Regions from separate parts of the Homo sapiens genome. Here region 1 is linked to region 2. Evidence: fine-mapped expression QTL. A gene starts in region 2. The other region holds a variant in brackets. All regions are shown on one strand. Distances are between the middles of the regions.

What was found.
Region 1: its variant is fine-mapped to the expression of LTAP1 in whole blood (TOPMed, PIP above 0.99).

Annotation. Positions count from the first base shown.
Region 1 is chr1:154,257,731-154,266,979 of GRCh38, forward strand. UBAP2L (ubiquitin associated protein 2 like) reads left to right here. Exons shown (of 27, transcript NM_014847.4): 21 at 1,247-1,300; 22 at 2,218-2,299; 23 at 3,162-3,379; 24 at 3,862-3,967; 25 at 8,771-8,838. It overlaps SNORA58B (small nucleolar RNA, H/ACA box 58B), which reads left to right and starts at 1,997; the gene lies at 1,997-2,132. The variant G/A (reference allele first, on the strand shown) is at 5,451.
Region 2 is chr1:154,216,182-154,225,430 of GRCh38, forward strand. LTAP1 (lipid transport auxiliary protein 1) reads right to left here and starts at 4,409. Exons shown (of 7, transcript NM_001098616.3): 1 at 4,161-4,409; 2 at 3,655-3,756. The coding sequence starts at 4,226. It overlaps UBAP2L (ubiquitin associated protein 2 like), which reads left to right and starts at 4,774. Exons shown (of 27, transcript NM_014847.4): 1 at 4,774-4,794; 2 at 8,903-9,032. The coding sequence starts at 8,943. RefSeq lists enhancers at 3,782-4,529, 4,108-4,547, 4,530-5,277 and silencers at 3,868-3,937, 4,798-4,947.

The DNA.
Region 1 (9,249 bases), 42 kb after region 2:
ACTGGTTTTTAATCTTTGCAGTTTTGGAAAAAATACTAAACTGAGGCCAACCCATCTATTGTGTATCTGCTTTGGTTTATGGTGCACACATGTATGCATGTGTGTGTGTGCGTACAATGTGTATGTATATGTGTGATGAGAATATCTGCCCTGTTTGAAACACAGCTTCTGGGCCTCAGAAGCCAAAGGCCAGAATGTTCATCTGGAATCCTTTTTGGTTTCTTAGATAATTATGACTATTATTTTATTTTTTGAGGCAGATCTTGCTCTTTTACCCAGGTTGGAGTACAGTGGAACGATCATAGCTAGCTCACTGCAGCCTTGAACTCCTGGGCTCAAGCAATCCTCTCACCTCAGACTCCCCAAGTAGCTAGGACTACAGGTGTGCATCCCCATGCCTGGCTAAGTTTTAAAAATTTTTTTAGAGACAGGGTCTTCCTATGTTGCCTAGGCTGGTCTCAAAATCCCAGGTTCAGACAGTCCTCCTGCCTCAGCCTCTCAAATAACTGGGGTTATATATAGGCCTGAGCCACTACTCCTGGCCCCAAGAATTATTTTCTCTGATTTGATTAAATCCCTAACTCTGAGTGTGTTTGCTGGTCTGGCCTGGTTAGAGGAAAGTTTCCTGACTCAATCTGGGACTTTGAGAATAAGTGGCTGACATTAGTAGCTTTTTGCCCTAGTGTATCTTCTGTGACCTTCAAGTATTTGGTACCTATTAAGATGAAGGATATATGGAAACGTTTTAGAAGATACCTGTTCCTGCCCTCATAGACAAAGTCTAGATAAATTTCATACCGATGACACATCCAAATAACACAGTTACACATTTTTAATTTGTGGTCACTACCTTAAAACCCTGACATTGGAGAAAAGTGAAGTATTCTTTCCAGAGGAGATTATTTTTAAGCCAGATTTTGAAGAGTATAAGAGACAGAGACTTGTAGAATAGAGAGTAAAACTGGTTGTTCGTGTATGTTTTGTGTCTACTCTATTGGTATCAAGAAGCCAGCCTACTAGAATCAGTAGTATTTAGCTCAAGGAAAGCTTCAAGACCTTTCATGAATCATTTAATCTCTGTGTACTTTACTGCTTTTTCCTTAAATAAAATTGAAGGAAATAATCCGTGTCCTGTTCTAACCCAGAATGAGGATGAATGTTCTGTTGAATTAGCTTGTCTCTTGGCTCCTTGTTTTGCTAACATCATGACCAGTTCCTGTTATTGCTATATGTCTGTATCTTTCAGCCACAAGTATATGGTTATGATGACTTGCAGATGCTTCAGACAAGATTTCCATTGGTGAGTATGTGGGATAGAGCTTTGGAAAAGAAAGTAGTCTTAAAATTAGTGTTGGGAGAATTATCTCCGTCACAGACATAGCTCTTTCCCATCCCAGCCCTCCATACACTCTGATTTAAGGCATATTAGAATATAGGGATTTGGGGGAGGGTTTCCAACAGAAGATAACTTTTTTTTTTGAGACAGAGTCTTTCTCTGTCGCTCAAGCTGGAGTGCAGTGGTGTGATCTTGGCTCATTGCAACCTCCGCCGCCTGGGTTAAAGCAATTGTCTGCCTCAGCCTTCCGAGTAGCTGGGATTAAAGGTGCCCACCACCACCCCCAGCTAATTTTTTTTGTATTTTTAGTAGAGGCGGGGTTTCACCATCTTGGCCAAGCTGGTCTTGAACTCCTGACCTTATGATCCACCCGCCTCTGCCTCCCTAAGTGCTGAGCTTATAGGCATGAGCCGCCGCACCCAGCCTTTTTTTTTTCTTTTTTTAAATCAGAGTTGTGGCATCTTAGTAAATACATTTTAACCTATTCTATAGCCCAGTAAAGTACTCTGGAGCACTCAGGGTGCTTTCTGTTTGTCCCAGACACTTTAAATTATCGAATGATCTGTTTTCTCAGTAGAATAAGCTTGGTATAAACTGATAGGGATGACACCTAGAGGGTTGAAAATATTGGTCCTCGTGGACTTTGATGTATTCTCAAGTGGGCATACCCGTAGACCTTGTCTGACTGTGCTCATGGCCAGGCAGGGGGGACAGTGTATGCAAGAGTAATGTGGAGTTTGTGCTAACTCTAGCCAGCTTAATTAGTGACTGGATAAATTGCACAACTCTCACATTCTTCTGTTTTTTCCTCCGTGGAAATAGTACTCATGCTGGGGAATGAGTGACATTGAATCTCTGCTCTTTTTTCCCCTCTTTTCTAGGATTACTACAGCATCCCATTTCCCACACCCACTACTCCGCTGACTGGGAGGGATGGTAGCCTGGCCAGCAACCCTTATTCTGGTAGGATTGGGATGGGACTAAATAAATAAAAAGGGAGATAGTGTTGGGATTGATGGCAGACACCTGATTGGTAGCAAGAAGGGATGTGATAAATCAGGATTGGTAGATTCAAAATCCTGCTAAAGTTGGGCATGTCATGGCTTTTCCTATTCATCCCACTTTGTGTTGTCTCCCTGTGATTTCTAGATGATATCTTAGCCAGGCATGGTAGCACACACTTGTAGTCTCAGCTACTTGGGAGGCCAAGGTGGGAGAATTGCTTGAGCCCAGGAGTTCAAGACCAGCCTGGGCAACATAGCAAGACCCCATCTCCAAAAAAAGTGATATCTTGACTTAGTTTCAAGCCATTTGCTAGCTTTTTCCAGGAAATACAGTGGTTGAGGTGGTCTTCTCTGCTCATCTCTGCCCCTTTATGCTACTACTCACAGTGGCAATCTCACTGCCTTGCCACTCCTTCTTTTACCTGACCTATCATTGTCCTCATTGACTTACCGTTTTCCCTGATCCATCGTTGTCCTTCAAGTCCAGCATGGGGTATTCCCCATGGAGGAGAAGAGGGGAGGGAAGAAGAGGGAAGATGAAAGAGAACACAAGTGGGCAGAGAAATTGTGCAGGTGCCTTATTCCAAGAGCCTCCTGCCATAGCATTGCACAGTTATTCAACATTAGTCCTTGACTTGCAGCAACTGTGCTAAGTGTATGCTGAGCAACAATAATTGGAGCCACTAAGAAATGTAATTCAAGGAATTGAACTTTAATAGTCTTTGAACAGGATCTCCTGGAATCATGTGAAATCAGAAGAGGTAATTCTGTATTGGTATTGGGGTGAAAGAGGCAGGTACATTTAGCTTCTCCTGTCACAGGTGACCTCACAAAGTTCGGCCGTGGGGATGCCTCCTCCCCAGCCCCGGCCACAACCTTGGCCCAACCCCAACAGAACCAGACGCAGACTCACCATACCACGCAGCAGACATTCCTGAACCCGGCGCTGCCTCCTGGCTACAGTTACACCAGCCTGCCATACTATACAGGGGTCCCGGGCCTCCCCAGCACCTTCCAGTATGGGCCTGCTGTGTTCCCTGTGAGTACCTGGCTTTGGTCACTCCTTGTGGTGAAGGATCCTAGCCCTGGACACTATCCTAGCTGCTTTTAAGGGTCAATGACTTTAATAATGGATGAGGAGGAACAGTTTCCACCTCTGGCCTGTTTTTGGCCTGATGCAGGGTGGTGGGGGAATGGGGCTGGAATTGGTGGAATTAGGATAGGGATTGCCTAGTCTTAGAATTTGCCAAAGGGAGAATATGATACCATACAGCTTTGCTTCACTCAGATTCATTCATTCCCTGCTGCCATTGTCCCTTTTTCTTCCTCCAAACTACCATTTCTTGACTTCATTAGTAGATTCTAGAACAGTTAGTAAGGAGCTAATTTCACTAAGCAAACTGTAGTCAACTTGCATCAGGATAGGTAGCCATCTGAATGGCCAGTACCTGGAGCAGGACAAGTGGGACAGATGGTATTCTGCTGCCAAGTCACTGCAAATCTGGCCTTTTTGCTCTTTAGGTGGCTCCTACCTCTTCCAAGCAGCATGGTGTGAATGTCAGTGTGAATGCATCGGCCACCCCTTTCCAACAGCCGAGTGGATATGGGTCTCATGGATACAACACTGGTAAGCTGACCTTGTCTCTGGCTCGGTGTTATCTGTGGGGTGTTATTGGATAAATTTCAGGGAGGAAGACTTGGTGCTTGAGAAAATGGGATTGGTGAGGGTGTGCCGCTGCCCCAGGTATGATTGTTAATGCTTGGCTGACTTGGGTATCTGTGGGAGCAGCACCAACAGAGGAGCTTGATACTAGGACATGTGTCCACTATTTGTGACGGGAATGCCCAAGAGTATGTGTTGGTTTTTAGAATATGTTGGTTGGCCAAAAGTGTGGGTGGAAGTAGGGCAAGGAGCCCCAAGATTTTGCTGAAATGTCAGTGGAGGCAAGTGTTAATAGTATGTATGGCACTGATAGTACAAAAGGGGGGTGTATTCACTGAGTAGAAGGATTAAATGGGTTCATAGCTAGCAGCCTACGATAGGTTTGGCTTAAATCACTTTGTAGCACTACTTTTCTTATGTGTCCTTTTTTATTCCCTAGCTAGAAGACCTAAACTGTGGAGAAAAAGGAGTAGGCGTGACCATACTTAATAGAGTGGGAATTGGACTGGGAGAGTTGGGCCTTTAGGTTCCTTCATTTGTATGGCTGGTCTCTTTGCAAGTCTTTTTGCATATGTGATGGCAGGGAGGGAATTGTAGGAATCCTCTGGATGGGTACTTACCTAAAAGATACTCAGCCTCTCCCTTGCTTCCATACCTGACATCTGTGCTCTACTTTTGGAGGACAGGGAGTGAGAAGGAATCTTTGAATAATATAATTGTACCTTTTCAGCGACTTGTAGATGAATAGGGGAGGAGTAGGTTTCTCTGATTGCTTAGGGTTGGGGATGGGGGTTGTCCTTCAAAGCTGTCAGCTCAGTTACAGTTTCATGGTGATTTGGATAGAGCAGCATGTGTTTTTCACCCTTATGTGGGCTCTGGGTGGGTCAGTTGCCCACAGTTTTCAATAATTGGGAAGAGCACAGAAGGCAGTAAGGGCTAGGAACTGATAGCCAAGTGGAGCTTTGAACTGTGCTGCATGAGTTAGAGTGGGTCATGAGTTAAATTAAACAAATCCTGAGAAGCCCCATTGAGATTTAATACATAGACTCCTTGTGGCCACCCCTGTCATTGAGCAAGGTTCACCCTAAATCTTGGTGGGGAGGATTATAAGCCTTTTGACTTGGAGTGGTGGCCCCTTTCTGAGGACATTAGGTTGAAGTCTTAGTTGGACCAGGTTCACGAATTTTAAGAGGTAGGTGATGGATAATATAAGAGAATTGGCATACCTGATTCTAGAAATCCCACCTTCTTGCCTCCCTTCAGAATTCAGAAACGTATTATATCAGCCCTTGAGAACCCCCAGTTCCCAACCCCACAAAGGGCTTTTGTCATTCCATTCATTTATTTTTATGTATTTGATTCCTTTTAGGAAGAAAATATCCACCCCCTTACAAGCATTTCTGGACGGCTGAGAGCTAATTTGGCCCAAGGCTGGGGGCTGTGTTTT[G/A]TGTGTGTGTATAAATTTGCACTGAAGTCTTGTTTCAGAAACCAGACCACTGAGGAGAGCCTGCTGAGCTGAGGCCATGGCCTGCGTGGCTTGGGGAAATGAGTTGGTGGATACCTTCTGGGCTTTTGAACTTGCCCCTCCCCCATTTCCCTCTCCCCCATGTGTCTGACCCTGTCTTACCCATTTCAAGTTCAAGCGGTGCAGCACCTTCGAAGCATCAATGCACACACCTGCTGTTGCTTTTGATTTCTGGAAGGCATGTAGTTTCAACTTGTAACAAAAATATTTGTAGTCTTCAATAAACTGTGGTATTTCTTTAGCTAACTCTGGCGTTCTTTCCGTGCATGTCTTTGTGGACACTAGGAACCAATGCTGTGCTGTGGATGAAGGGTGGAGGGTGGCCTTTTTAATCAAACCCCAGCATAGCCAAAGAACTATTAATTTTTCAGTATGGTGGTTTTATGAAGGTGGGGGGAGGGGAAACAGCCTCAGTTTCCCACCTGTTGATTAGTTGGTAAAGGAAACTATTTGTAGAAATACCTGATTCTCCATGCTTATGTTGCTTCATTTTTCCATTTAGATCTTTCCTTTGCCTCTTACATAAGCAGTGGGGGAAAGGACAAAAAAGTTTGGAGTGTCATGTCATGGTGAAAGGCAAAAGAGAGAGTTTTCAGAGCTGTTAGAGAAGTATCTTTCAAGGCTTAATTCCCACATCTATCTGGTTCCTAAAGGCCAAGTGGCTAAGATCTGATAAAGTCATTAGTGATAAGCTAGTTGATGACTCAGGCTCTGTGGCGACTGTGCTATCCTGGAACATTGTTCTTAGTCCCTTGATGGCTTTTCAGAGATCGTGGATTACCAGTTTTGCATTTGTGGGTATAAGCTAAGGATGTGCAGGAGCGGTTTGGTCAGATATCTCCTTGACTATGGAAATTCTAATTCCCTCCCAGTCCAGCTAGCATACAACATTAGCCCTTTGTTTATAAAGTTAACGTGGACAGTGAGATCACCACCCTGGGTGAATTAGAAACCAAAGTATTCAGCTTTCCTTGTATTTGTTCCCAGCCCTTTGGAGTAATTTTGCTCTGTGGAGTGTGACCACCTTTCCCAGGGGCTGCCATGGTGGGAGAGATAGATTCATGTGTCTCTGCCCTGCTGCCCACGTGATTCTGGTATTGTCACTGTTTGGGGATAAGTAGGGGGTGTTGATGTTGGAAGGAAAGCAAGAGAACTCTGTAGTCTGAAGATCTTCCTAATAACTGGTGAGGGGTAGTGAAATCAGTACCCATTATTTTCTAGGTCTCTAATACTGTAATTGAGATTATTATGGCTACTACAGAGTATTATGGTTCCTGCATTCTCAGTCCCTTCAACCTCATATCAAAGATAAGGCCTCTGGACTAGAAGCTGTTTTTAGCCTAAACTCTGGAAAGAATGAGATCAGGTAGGGGCACACTGGAGCTGAATTCCTCCCTACCACTCGGCTTGAGAATCCAGTTAGTCATTTCTTCCATCCAATATAGGCAGCCTAGCCTCACTGCAGAAGGTGACCAACTATGCTATTTTTTATTTTTTTATTTTTTTTTTGCCTTTGCAGTAAAGATAAATTCTCTCTTTTGGTTTGACTTAAAAATGTTCTACTTATATCCTGTTTATTCCACCTTTACTCTCCACCCTTCCACATGAACTTACTAGCTTAAGCCTTTTCCATAACTGAACTTCCTATTCTTAAAAGTTATGCCTGTTACTCAGTGATTTGCCAGATGGGCACCTCGGGTTTGAAAAGGGAATGGAAAAAATACCCCATTAGCCCTTTAAGATACTCCTGTATCGTTCCCTTCTTTTACTTCAGTGTCTTTAGACAGTTGATGCTTCGGAGATGAGGAAGTATTTTCTCTTGCTTGGTTTTCTGTAGTTCCGTTATTTTTCCTAGTTAGTGTTTGCCCCTCCCAGGAACTATCTGGACTTAGGATGTTGGGAAGGTTTTCCAGATTAAGATACCACTTCAAAAGTGACTGTTCAAGGTGGGCTTAACTTTGGAAGGCTGCCTTTGTCTGAGGCATTGGGAGGATTTAGGTTCTAGAGTTTGAATTGTGGGTGAATGGAGGATTCCTTATTTGTGATTTGGCCACTCTAGTACACTGCTTCTAAAACTCTTTTCCATCAGTGTTCCTGATAGCAGAGGAGAAGGAAATGTGTACCTCTGATGGGAAGGATCCAAGGGCATAGACAGGCAAAGTTTTTCTGAAGCTTTGTTTTATTTTTATAAAAACTAATATATCTTTTTAAAATCATGCTTTATATTCCTAGTTAAATTACTTACTTTTCTTCACATCTTTGTTTCAAAATGGAAAGTATAAAAGATGTTAGGTTATTTATTTCATGGCTTTTCCTATCTTCTTGACCCGATGCCTTATACCCCAGGTGATGGAATATAGTATGAGTATTTATTTGTTTGAGGAGTACAAATTAGAATGACATGTTGTACTACTCTGGTTTCTTTAAAGTTGTAGTGGTTAGTAGGGAGTTTTTTTCAACAGGAAATATGAGAGTTGGGGTATGAGAGCTTTTATCTTACGGAGAAGCTGAAGTTGTATACTGAAAATGACGTGGTTTTTGTGTTCCACCTAGGCTATAGGAGATGGCCTACTCCTGTCTACCTATCCCTCCCCACCCCGCTACACTTAGGCTTAAATTGTGTACATGGAAATTGATCTTGATACTAGACCTTTACATCTTAAGTTTGAAGATTTAGCCTAGATGCTCCAAGACTAAAGAAGCTGGACTAATTGAGCTGAGGCTCTGAGAATGAGAGTGCCCTTGGGGATTAAAGTGGACTGCTCCTCTAGTACTTATGCAGTGGAGGCATGGATTTTGAGCCCAGAAATGTCACTTCAGGAAGAGAGAGGGCCAGACTGCCCCAGTCTCCAGGAATAAAACTGAGTGGCATTTGGGTGGATTGATTTGAAATGGACATTAAAATTAAAAGTTTATTATATTCCTGCTAGACTTTGGCACAGAAGTGTTTTGAAAACAGTGTATGCTAGTGAGGTTTGGTCATATCCCCTTGCCCACCAAAAAACAACTTACCTCACTCTCTCTCACGTATACTCAACACGTACCTGGGAAGGGCCAAAGAACCCTTAGGGAGCTTTTGTTTCATGAACTCTTACCTCTCAGGACTAACTTGAAGCTGGAAAACCGACCAAAATTCCCTTGCATTGGTATAGCTAGAAAGGCTACAGATATCACCTCATCTCAGGAATAAGGGCCAGGTAGCTAGCTGAGCTAATCCTCCTGTCTGTTTCCTCCTCCCCCAGGTGTTTCAGTCACCTCCAGTAACACGGGCGTGCCAGATATCTCGGGTTCTGTGTACTCCAAAACCCAGGTAGGTGCCTGGCTCTGGATAAAAGTGGAAAAGAGATAGACATAGAGGAGGTGGAGTTGCAATGGTAGAAATAACAGTGGACAAGAAGAACCCTAGGAGAGGTGGCAGGAAACCCATCCTACTTTTTCTAAATGAAAGGTCTTCTCTAGACTTCACTTCCTCTAAGAAGTTAAAATTTAGCCCTCTGAGAAAAAAAACGAGAAACGTAATAGGAAGGTAAAGCGTGGCAAATTGTTTATCGTGTCATGTAATTTACTGTGCAACTCTCCTGGCCCCTTTTCCTACCTACTCCCAACCTTTTTCATAACTTTTCAAGAGAATAAGTATGAGAGTGACAGGAAACTAGTTCATTCCATTCTTTGAGTAAATCTATAACAGTGGGAGTGGGAAAGGAGACGACCTAGTAACTAA
Region 2 (9,249 bases):
CTCCGCACCCCAAACCTTAACTTGTCAATAGTCCTCATACACTTCTTCACTGTTTTATCGTGTCACCCTAAAAAAGATGCTTAGCTTTGCCTGGTTTTCAACTTGATACAAATGGAAAAATACTTTAAGAATCCCTCTGCAACTTGTTTAAAAAAAAAATTTTTTTTTTTTGAGACAGGGTCACACTCTGTCACCCAGGCTGGAGTGCAATGGCACAATCTCAGCTCACTATAACCTCCACCTCCTGAGCTCAGATGATCCTCCTGCCTTAGCCTCCTGAGTAGCTGGGGTTACAGGCACACACCACCATGCATGGCTAATTATTAAACATTTTTTTTTTTTGAGATGGAGTCTTGCTCTGTCACCCAGACTGGAGTACAGTGGCATGATCTTGGCTCATTGCAACCTCTGCCTGCTGGGTTCAAGCAATTCTCCTTGCCCTCCTGCCTCAGCCTCCCAAGTAGCTGGGACTACAGGCGCATGCCACCATGCCCAGCTAATTTTTTGTATTTTTCGTAGAGATGGGGTCTCACCATGCTCGCCAGGCTGGTCTCAAACTCCTGACCTTGTGATCTTCTCATGTGGGCCTCCCAAAGTGCTGGGATTACAGGCGTGAACCACCGCGCCTGGCCCATTTTTAAACTTTTTATAGAGACAGGGTTTCCCCATATTGCCTACGCTGGTCTCGAACTCCTGAGCTGACGTGATCAGCCTGCCTCGGCCTCCCAAAGTGCTAGGATTACAGGTGTAAACCACCTCGCCTGGCCTTAAATTTTTTTTTTTTTTGATACAGAGACTCACTCTGTCACCCAGGCTGGAGTGCAATGGTGTGATCTCTGCTCACTGCAACCTCCGCCGGGGCTCAAGTGATTCTCCTGCCTCAGCCTCCTGAGTAGCTGGGATTACAGGCACACACCGCCACGCCCAGCTAATTTTTTTGCATTTTTAGTACAGTCGGGGTTTCACCGTGTTGGCCAGGCTGGTCTTGAACTCCTGACCTCAGGTGATCCACCTGCCTCAGCCTCCCAAAGTGCTGGGATTACAGGCGTTAGCCACCGCACCCAGCAAAATTTTTCAAATATACTTTATTGAGGTTGAATTTACATACAATAAATGCATTCATTTTATGTATATAAATTGATGAGTTTGACAAATGAACATACCCCCTTCACCACCACGTCAATCAAAGTAAAGAATATTTTCATCACCTGGAAATCTCCCCTCTCCCAGCCCAGGCAACATGATGTACTCTTTTACAGTTCTGCCTGTTCTAGAATTTCATATAAATGGGGTGGAAGCACATGGTACATATTCTCTTGTGAACGGCATTTTGGCTTTCTTCACTCAGCATGGTTTTTTTGTTTTTGGTGAGACAGAGTCTCGCTCTGTCACCCAGGCTGGAGTGCAGTGGTTTGATCTCAGCTTACTACAACCTCTGCCACCTGGGTTCAAGGGATTCTCCTACCTCAGCGTCCCGAGTAGTTAGGATTTTTTTCTTGTATTTTTAGTAGAGATTGGGTTTCACCATGTTGGCTGGTCTGGTCTCGAACTCCTGACCTCAAGTGTTATCTGCCCAACTCGGCCTCCCTAAGTGCTGGGATTACCGGCATGAGCTACCATGCCCGGCCCACTCAGCATGTTTTTGAGATTCATGTTTGCAATTTTTTTCATTCAGAAGTATTTTGAGGACTTGTCTTCATATATTTATCTTCAGTTTTTCATTTTTTACACTATTCCAGAATATGAATATACCACTACCTATTTTTTAGAAACAAGGTCTTGCTCTTGCCCATGCTGGAGTGCATCAGTGCAATCATAGCTCACTGCAGTCTGTAACTCCTGGGCTCACATGATCTTCTGGCCTCAGCCTCCCAAAGTGCTAGGACTACAGGTATGAGCCACTGCACTCAGCCTATATAATAATTGAAAAGTGGACATTTGAATTAAGTTTCTTCTTCAAATATTATGAACAATGCCCCTATAAATAATCTTGCACATGTTTCTTGGTACACATGAGCAAAACTTAATTTCTCTATGGTAGGAGAGAAACTGTTGGACCATGGATTAGGTACATGTGCAATCTTACCAGACAATGACCAGTTATTTTCCAAAGTGGTTTTACTAATTTATACTTTCACTAGCAATGGTTGAGAATTTAGAAAAAATTTTTAAGCAAAAGGAATATTGCTCTGAACTAGACCAAGGGACCCCTGAATAGCCAAAGTATTGATTGGTTCATGATGTGCTAGAAACTAACCCTATGTCTTTCTCATGAGGCAGGCAGGACTGTTAAGGTTTCAAGCCAGGACATCCTCCTAGAGCCTTTTCATGTACTATGTCAGCAAAGAACAAAGAGGGGAAGGTTAATAGCACTTGTTAATGAAAGTACAGTGCTCTAGGAGTTGAGGGAGTCATGAGCTCTAGCTCTACAACTAACCTGTTTTTCATTCAGCAACAAATTACAGAGTACCTGCTATGTGTAGGCCCTGGCACTAACCTGTTTTTCATTCAACAAGAAATTACTGAGTACCTACTATGTGTAGGTCCTGGCTTTATAGTCGTGAACAAAACTGGCATGGTGCCTGCATTCTTGAAGCTTACGGTCTAGCGGAAGAGAGAGGCATGTTTTAAACAAATGGACAAACATAAAAATTATGGTAAATGCTATGAAGGAAAAATCAGGGTACCATGTGAAAATAAAGAGAGGGGGAACCTACTTTAAAATAGGTAATAAGCATTCCTTTTTTGGAAGTAACATTTAAGCTAAGATCAAAAGAATGAATGAGCTAGCCAATTGAAGACCATTCCAGATCACAGGAGCAAAAAGGGTGGAAAATTCAGCCAGTGGAGCTGGGTCCCAGTGATCTGGGGAGAGCCACACAAAAGGGGGTTGGTAAGGGAAGCAGGTGTCTTTTACTTAGAAGCGAAAGACTAAAGAAGCAGAATGAGAGTGGCAGTGGGATAGCAATAATTCTGATTCACAAATGTTGGGTTTGAGATGTCTACTACAAATCTAAGTGGAAATGTCAGGTAATCAGTTGGCAATATATGTAAGGAACTCAGGAAAGAGTTCTAGGATAGAGATAAAATTTCATCTGTAGCTAAAGCCAAGGAAAGGAAGACAGTCACCTAAGGAGAAAGTACAGACAAAGATAAAAGACCACTGGGTTATTCACTTCCTATACGTCTTCTGGTAAACTGCCTCCTTTTCTTGGGCTTCTTGGTAACATGAATGGTGGAATTAGATGATTTATGGAGCTCCTCTTAAGTCTAAAATTATGTAAAGGTAACCCTTCTCATTGCTCTTGGGTTAACCTTAATGATCTCAACCCCATCCTAATCAAACAAAAAACACTGGGTAGTTTAAGATGAGCTGGGAAATATTTTACTACAAACAGTTGGGAACTTCGACCCAAGCCCTTCATTCTGCAGATACAAAAACAGAAGTTCCAGGATGAGCCACATGCTTGCCACAGCACTGAGCAGGTAAGCCAAGTTCCAAAGCGCACAGTGCCTGCTCAACTTAGTAAGTACAAGGACAAGTGCACGCAAAGAAACATGAGAATTAAAGTCATCACTAAAGGCAGAGGAAATCTCATTCTTGACCCTAAAAGATCTGGAGAAGTATGTTTAACTTGTGCCCTAAGGACCTACCTTGGGGGCATTGTGTCCCACAGGGACATGAGGTCCCCTTCGAGATTTCATTGCAAAGCGCATGATTTGCCTCTTCACAAAAATAAATAGCAGTACAAACACCTGTCCAAAAAGATGTAAAAATCCTTTAATAAAAAGTCAGTTTTGTTTTGTTTTTTTTTTAAAAAAGCATGCCTTCATTCCAAATCCCCAGATTCCGGCTCTCAGGAATGTTTCAGGGTAAAACTTGGGGCAAAGCAAGGCCGTTATGATGGGGGTGGATCTAAGAAGCCAGCAGCAGGGAGGCGTGGGGTCTGTGCTCTAGCGTTAAAGGGAGGGTTCTAGACTAACGAGGGCGGGTCGGCCCGACTAAGTGACTTAAACTCCCACCTACTCCTGGAATAAGGAGTCAAAGCCCGGATAGGCGCAGGTGAGTGGGTGGAGAATGCAGACGGGGTACAGCTCAAAAGGAGGGTCTCTACTGGGTAAGATGCGACAGCAGGAATGGGGTGGGGTAATCTCCTCACCAGGCTCCCGTAGGCCATCACCAGCACGACATTCACCCCGGAGAGCCAGTTACTGCCGGACGCCATGGCCTCCCTACCTCGCGCAGAATTGTTCGGGTTTACCCCGCTGTCCTGGCTGGTCAGCCCAGGCTCCGCCGAAGCGACGGCGCCTGGGTCCCCTGGAGCTCCCCGGCCATTTCCTTACGGGGGAAGACCAAGCCAGACCCGGCCTGAAAACATGGCGGACAGGCAGGAGAGCTGGGAAAGGAGAACGACGCCTTCCAGCTTCCCCCTGACACGTGACTCAGGCAGGCAATGGCACCCAGGAGCGTCGAGCGCTCAGACGCGGAACTACGACAGTAAGAGGAAGCGGCGGCCATCCGTGCGTCACGTGGTGGAGGCAGGGCCGCCGTGAAGGAGGCGGGGTGGACTCGCGGAGCCGGAAAGAGGTGTCTCGTGGCGAGGCGGCACGCGCACGCTTGCGTGCGCGCCCCTTTTAGCGTCACGCGCTGAGGGACGCAGGAAGGCAAGTGGGCGGGGGAAGGCGCGAGAGCGAGCGCGAGAGGGAAAAGGAGGGAGGGGGTGGGGAAGAGGGAATCTTATATCACGTGACAGGGGCGGCGCGGCCCGGGGTGTCAGTGTGGAGGAGACTGAGGTAAAGTTGGGAGCGCAGCGGCGTTGGCGGCGGCGGCGGCGGCAGCGGCAGCGCGGCGGGGCCGGGTATTGTCCGCGGCCCCTTTAAATCCGCGATCCCCCTTTTACCCTCCCTCTTTTCTCCCCTGCCCCCGCCGTATCCCCTCCCTCGGTAGGCCCCCCCACACCGTGTGTTCCCCCACTGTACACCCCCCCCCGAGTCATGCGAGCCCTGGCGCCCCCCACCTCGAGTCGGCCCCCGGAGGTTTTGTTTATGGTTGGGTTCGCGGCCTAGTGGGCCGCGCCAGAGCCGGGGCCTCGATTTGGGAGCGTGGCCGGGGCGGGGCTTGGAGCAGCCGTAGGAAGGGGGGGCCATGCGGCTAGAGCCTGAGAGGGGAGAGCGAGAAAGAGCGCGAGCGAGCGAGGCCTGGGCCTTGCCTGAGGTAGGGCTCTCTCTTCACCCCGGCCGGTGCCTGCGGAGGAGAGGGCCTCCTCCCTTTCCACCCACTGCGGGCCTCCTCTGATCCGGATCCGGCCTGGTTTGGGGGTGGCGTGGGGGAGGGAGGGCGATGGGGTGGAGCTCCCCCAAACTCCCCCATGTGGCCCTCAGTTTGGTGTGCGAAGGATTAATTTGTTCCGGCTGGGAGGTAGGGAGGAGATTGGCCCCGTGGGCTCTCGATGTGGCGCTGAGGGGGGTGAGCCTCCCATCCTCCACCCGTGGGCTTGCGTCCCCTCTCCGTTTCCAGGCTCTTTGTCAGCTCCTCTTATTACCCTCCCTTCTTTCTCACCAACCCAGTTCTTGGAATATGTTTTTGCTGCTGTCTTTAGCTTCCTGTTTATACTGTAGTTTGGGTACCCCAAACAATTGTGTTATTTGGGAAGCTGGACATGGAGGCCCCCATAGGGTGTATTTACGCTTAAGGGACGTCACTAGAGCACTGGGGTATTTGTTCACTCTTCTCATAATGGTACAGGAATGCCCAGTTTCTTCAAACCCTTAACCTTGTGGACAGCCCTTAAATTGCTTTGCAAACTGATGTCACAAACTGGAGACTGCTCCTTTTCCACCATTCTTGAAATGTAGCCACCTCTGGTGTAGGATGTTGTGGAAAGAAAAACACCACAGTAACAGGCGTTTTTGTTATTATTGTTAACGTTTTTGCCTTTGACTCTCCCTGATTATTAAATGGAGAAATCCTTTTTTTTTGTCTTCTCTCCCATCCTACCTTCCTCCGCCGCATATCCTGTTTTGGGGATACCTGATGTGACTTGCTGGGAGGTGATGGACATTACTAGTAACCAGCGTTTCTAGAGAATTAAAACATTTTGGCTGTGTATCAGTTGATAAAACTGCTTTGAGATCTGTCTCCATTGTACTTAAAGATTAGACTATCCCAATGATTACAGAGAATTAAAACATTTTGGCTGTGTATCAGTTGATAAAACTGCTTTGAGATCTGACACCATTGTCCTTAAAGATTAGACTATCTCAATGATTGTTTCCTTTGTGAATGGGAAATATTGCTGGCACATAAACTAGTGATGAAAGGCCTAAAAATGTCCTGTTTTGTTTTTCATCTTTAAAGCTCCTCCTTGCTATGTCCTAACTGGGAAGTACTCTTACTAACTAGATATCAAGGTGGTGGGGAAGGGGATGCAGGGGCCATTTCAACAAAGCATCTACAGAAATTAGTTGTTCTGTTAGAGGTAGCAAATTTTACCCAACTCAGTCTAGCTTCAGTTTCTGAATTGTTTCTTAAATTAGATTGTAAGCTCCCTGAGGGCAGCTACTAAGTCATACTGCTTTTGTATTTTCCTGAAGTATTGGACACATAGTAGATTCTCAATAAATATTTGTTATTTAGTTTTTTCAGTGAAATTTCTCTGGCTATTTTTTTAAGTAGCTAGTTTTCAAAAAAGAGTCAAGGGCACTCCTGTGTTGAAACCTCTGTTTACTCTCGCACGATTTCCTTGGTCTCCAATACTTCTCACCCTACTTCCTTTAAATCTTTTTATTTTCTAAGAAAGAGCAAGTAAGTAACAAGATTCTTCATCTCCAGTGTGATAGCTGGGAATGGGTCTGCTTGCTACTAATTCTGTGCCCTCAAGTGATCCATTCCAGATCACTTACTTTTGACCTGTTGCTCAGTGTTGTCACTACTAGGTGGTAAAAATTTTCTTAGTCACATTTCGAAGCACTTGTAAGAGGGAAATGTTACTAGCAAGAGTGATTAGGAGAATTTTTTTCTTTCTTGGTTAATTATATCTTTCAAGATGACTTTTTAATATGTTTACATCTGACTGGTACAGTATATGCAATAGTGTATAGCTAGTCATGCAGTTTATACCTGCAATATAACTTATCCTCACAAATAGATATCACATGTGGAGTAGAAAACAGTCAATATTTGTAAGTTACAGTAGTGGGTTGGAAATGACTATGCCATATTAGAAACTTCATCTTAGAGCCAATTTTAAAACAAAATAGTTTTCCTCTCGTCTTTATATATATACGTATATATGTGTATATGTAGTCTTGTTGATTTGGATTCGGGGTACTTGGTTAAACATTTTTTTTTTTTGTAAAGTTGAAACGACTATAATGCTAACCTGGGAAAATGGGCTACTGTGTAGCAAATAATCCTTTCTAGCTTGAAATACTTATGGGCTTTTGTGTGCCAATATGTGTAGGGGGAAGAGGTAATGGGTTAAAAATTACCTGAGAAGCTACCTTAAAAAAATCTTTCTTGATACAAAGACCTATGCAACCTATTGACGCAACTTGGTGAAGAATTTATGCACAGAAAAAGTCAGCTTTCTCTGTGACATCCAAGAAAGTCAGATGAAATTCACTTCCCTAATAGTTAATCCTTGCATATTTCTTTAGAAGTCCTTCCTCCCACTCAAATCCAGTAATATCTCTGGGCAGTCTAGAATTACGTTGTATAAGGTTTCATTAACAAGAAAAATTAAATATAGAGCAGAAAAGTATAAACTTACCCTCTTTGGAAGGGAATAAATGCAGAGTAACCTATTATTTTGAACACTCTATCATATGATTAATGTTTTCTTTTTTACTAAATGCAGCAGCTGAGATTGTATTATAAAACAAAGTATGAACTAAAGGAACTTGAATTCAGTAGAATCCTTCCTTGTTAGAAGTCTTGTAACAAAAACTATATTCTGGTTTGGGGAAGGCCCTGTGTGTTCTGTGTCTCTTTAAAGACTCAACTAAGTCATCTTGCCAGCATTAAGGTCTCAAGTTTAAAATGATTTCTTAGAAGCACTTTCTTCCAAATAAAACTTTGTGCTAGATGCTTTTGGTTTGAGACAAATTTGAGATTCCCTGTATATTAAGGTGAGTGGTGGAGGGTAATTGCCATTTTGGTTTCTTGAAAATGTGGACTAGGAGACCAAGAGAAGCACCTGTAAAAGCAGTGTGTTGGAATTATTTTCCAGAGAACAGAGATTCTGGACAAAGTCATTGGGGCTAATACGTACCCTGTTGAAGGCTGTGGTTTAAAAAAACAAAAAACCCCCACAAACACAAAACAAACCCATAGCATACTGAGAGAGATGAAACTTGAGGGACAAAGAAGAGTCTAGACTTGAACTTGTCCTTTCCCAAGCAATGGAGGTCACATGCAGCTTACATAAAAAAGGTTGTAAGGCAGGTAAGGCTGTTTTCTTAGGTGATTGAATACAGTATTTAAAATTATTTCTCTGGAGTGTAGACTAATCTCCTTCCTGGAAGGTTTTTGTTTCCAGACTTTACTGATTATCTTTCCTTCTGTCAAAGGTACTTCAGATACTTGCATCTATGTAAAAGGCTTTTGATTATTAGTTAAATGTAAAGTCTGCTTATGGGGGACTAGTAACCAAACTGCTGTAACTTCTTAAAAAAATCCATCACTTACACATGCTTTATACATTTCTTGTTACATAAAAATGGATTAACAGCCATAGCTCCTTAAGGAATTTATCAAGCTAATTATGTTGTAAGAATAAATGAATCTTATTGATTTGTTCCTTTGAAGAAGTGAAAGTGTTTGGTGGTGAAGGTGCTGATGAGAGAGTTAAAAACATATTTTGCCCACATTTAATACCTAATTTTCTTTTAAATCTTTCAGTATTCTACCTTGTAAATACTGTTATTTGTATATACTGTAAATGATGACATCGGTGGGCACTAACCGAGCCCGGGGAAACTGGGAACAACCTCAAAACCAAAACCAGACACAGCACAAGCAGCGGCCACAGGTAAATAATCCAAGGCATACGGATTCATGGATAGCGTTGCCTGCTGATACTGGTTTCCATGCAGTACAGCATCATTCTGTGCTTTGAACTGTTGGTTTAGGTTCCTTATTTTTGTTTTCTAGTCCTTGGCTCTTTTTTTACTTAGGTCCTGATAACTGTTCATGACATGCTGTAAGGCAAGATGCTTACTTTTTTGTTGTTTAATACTGTATTATGA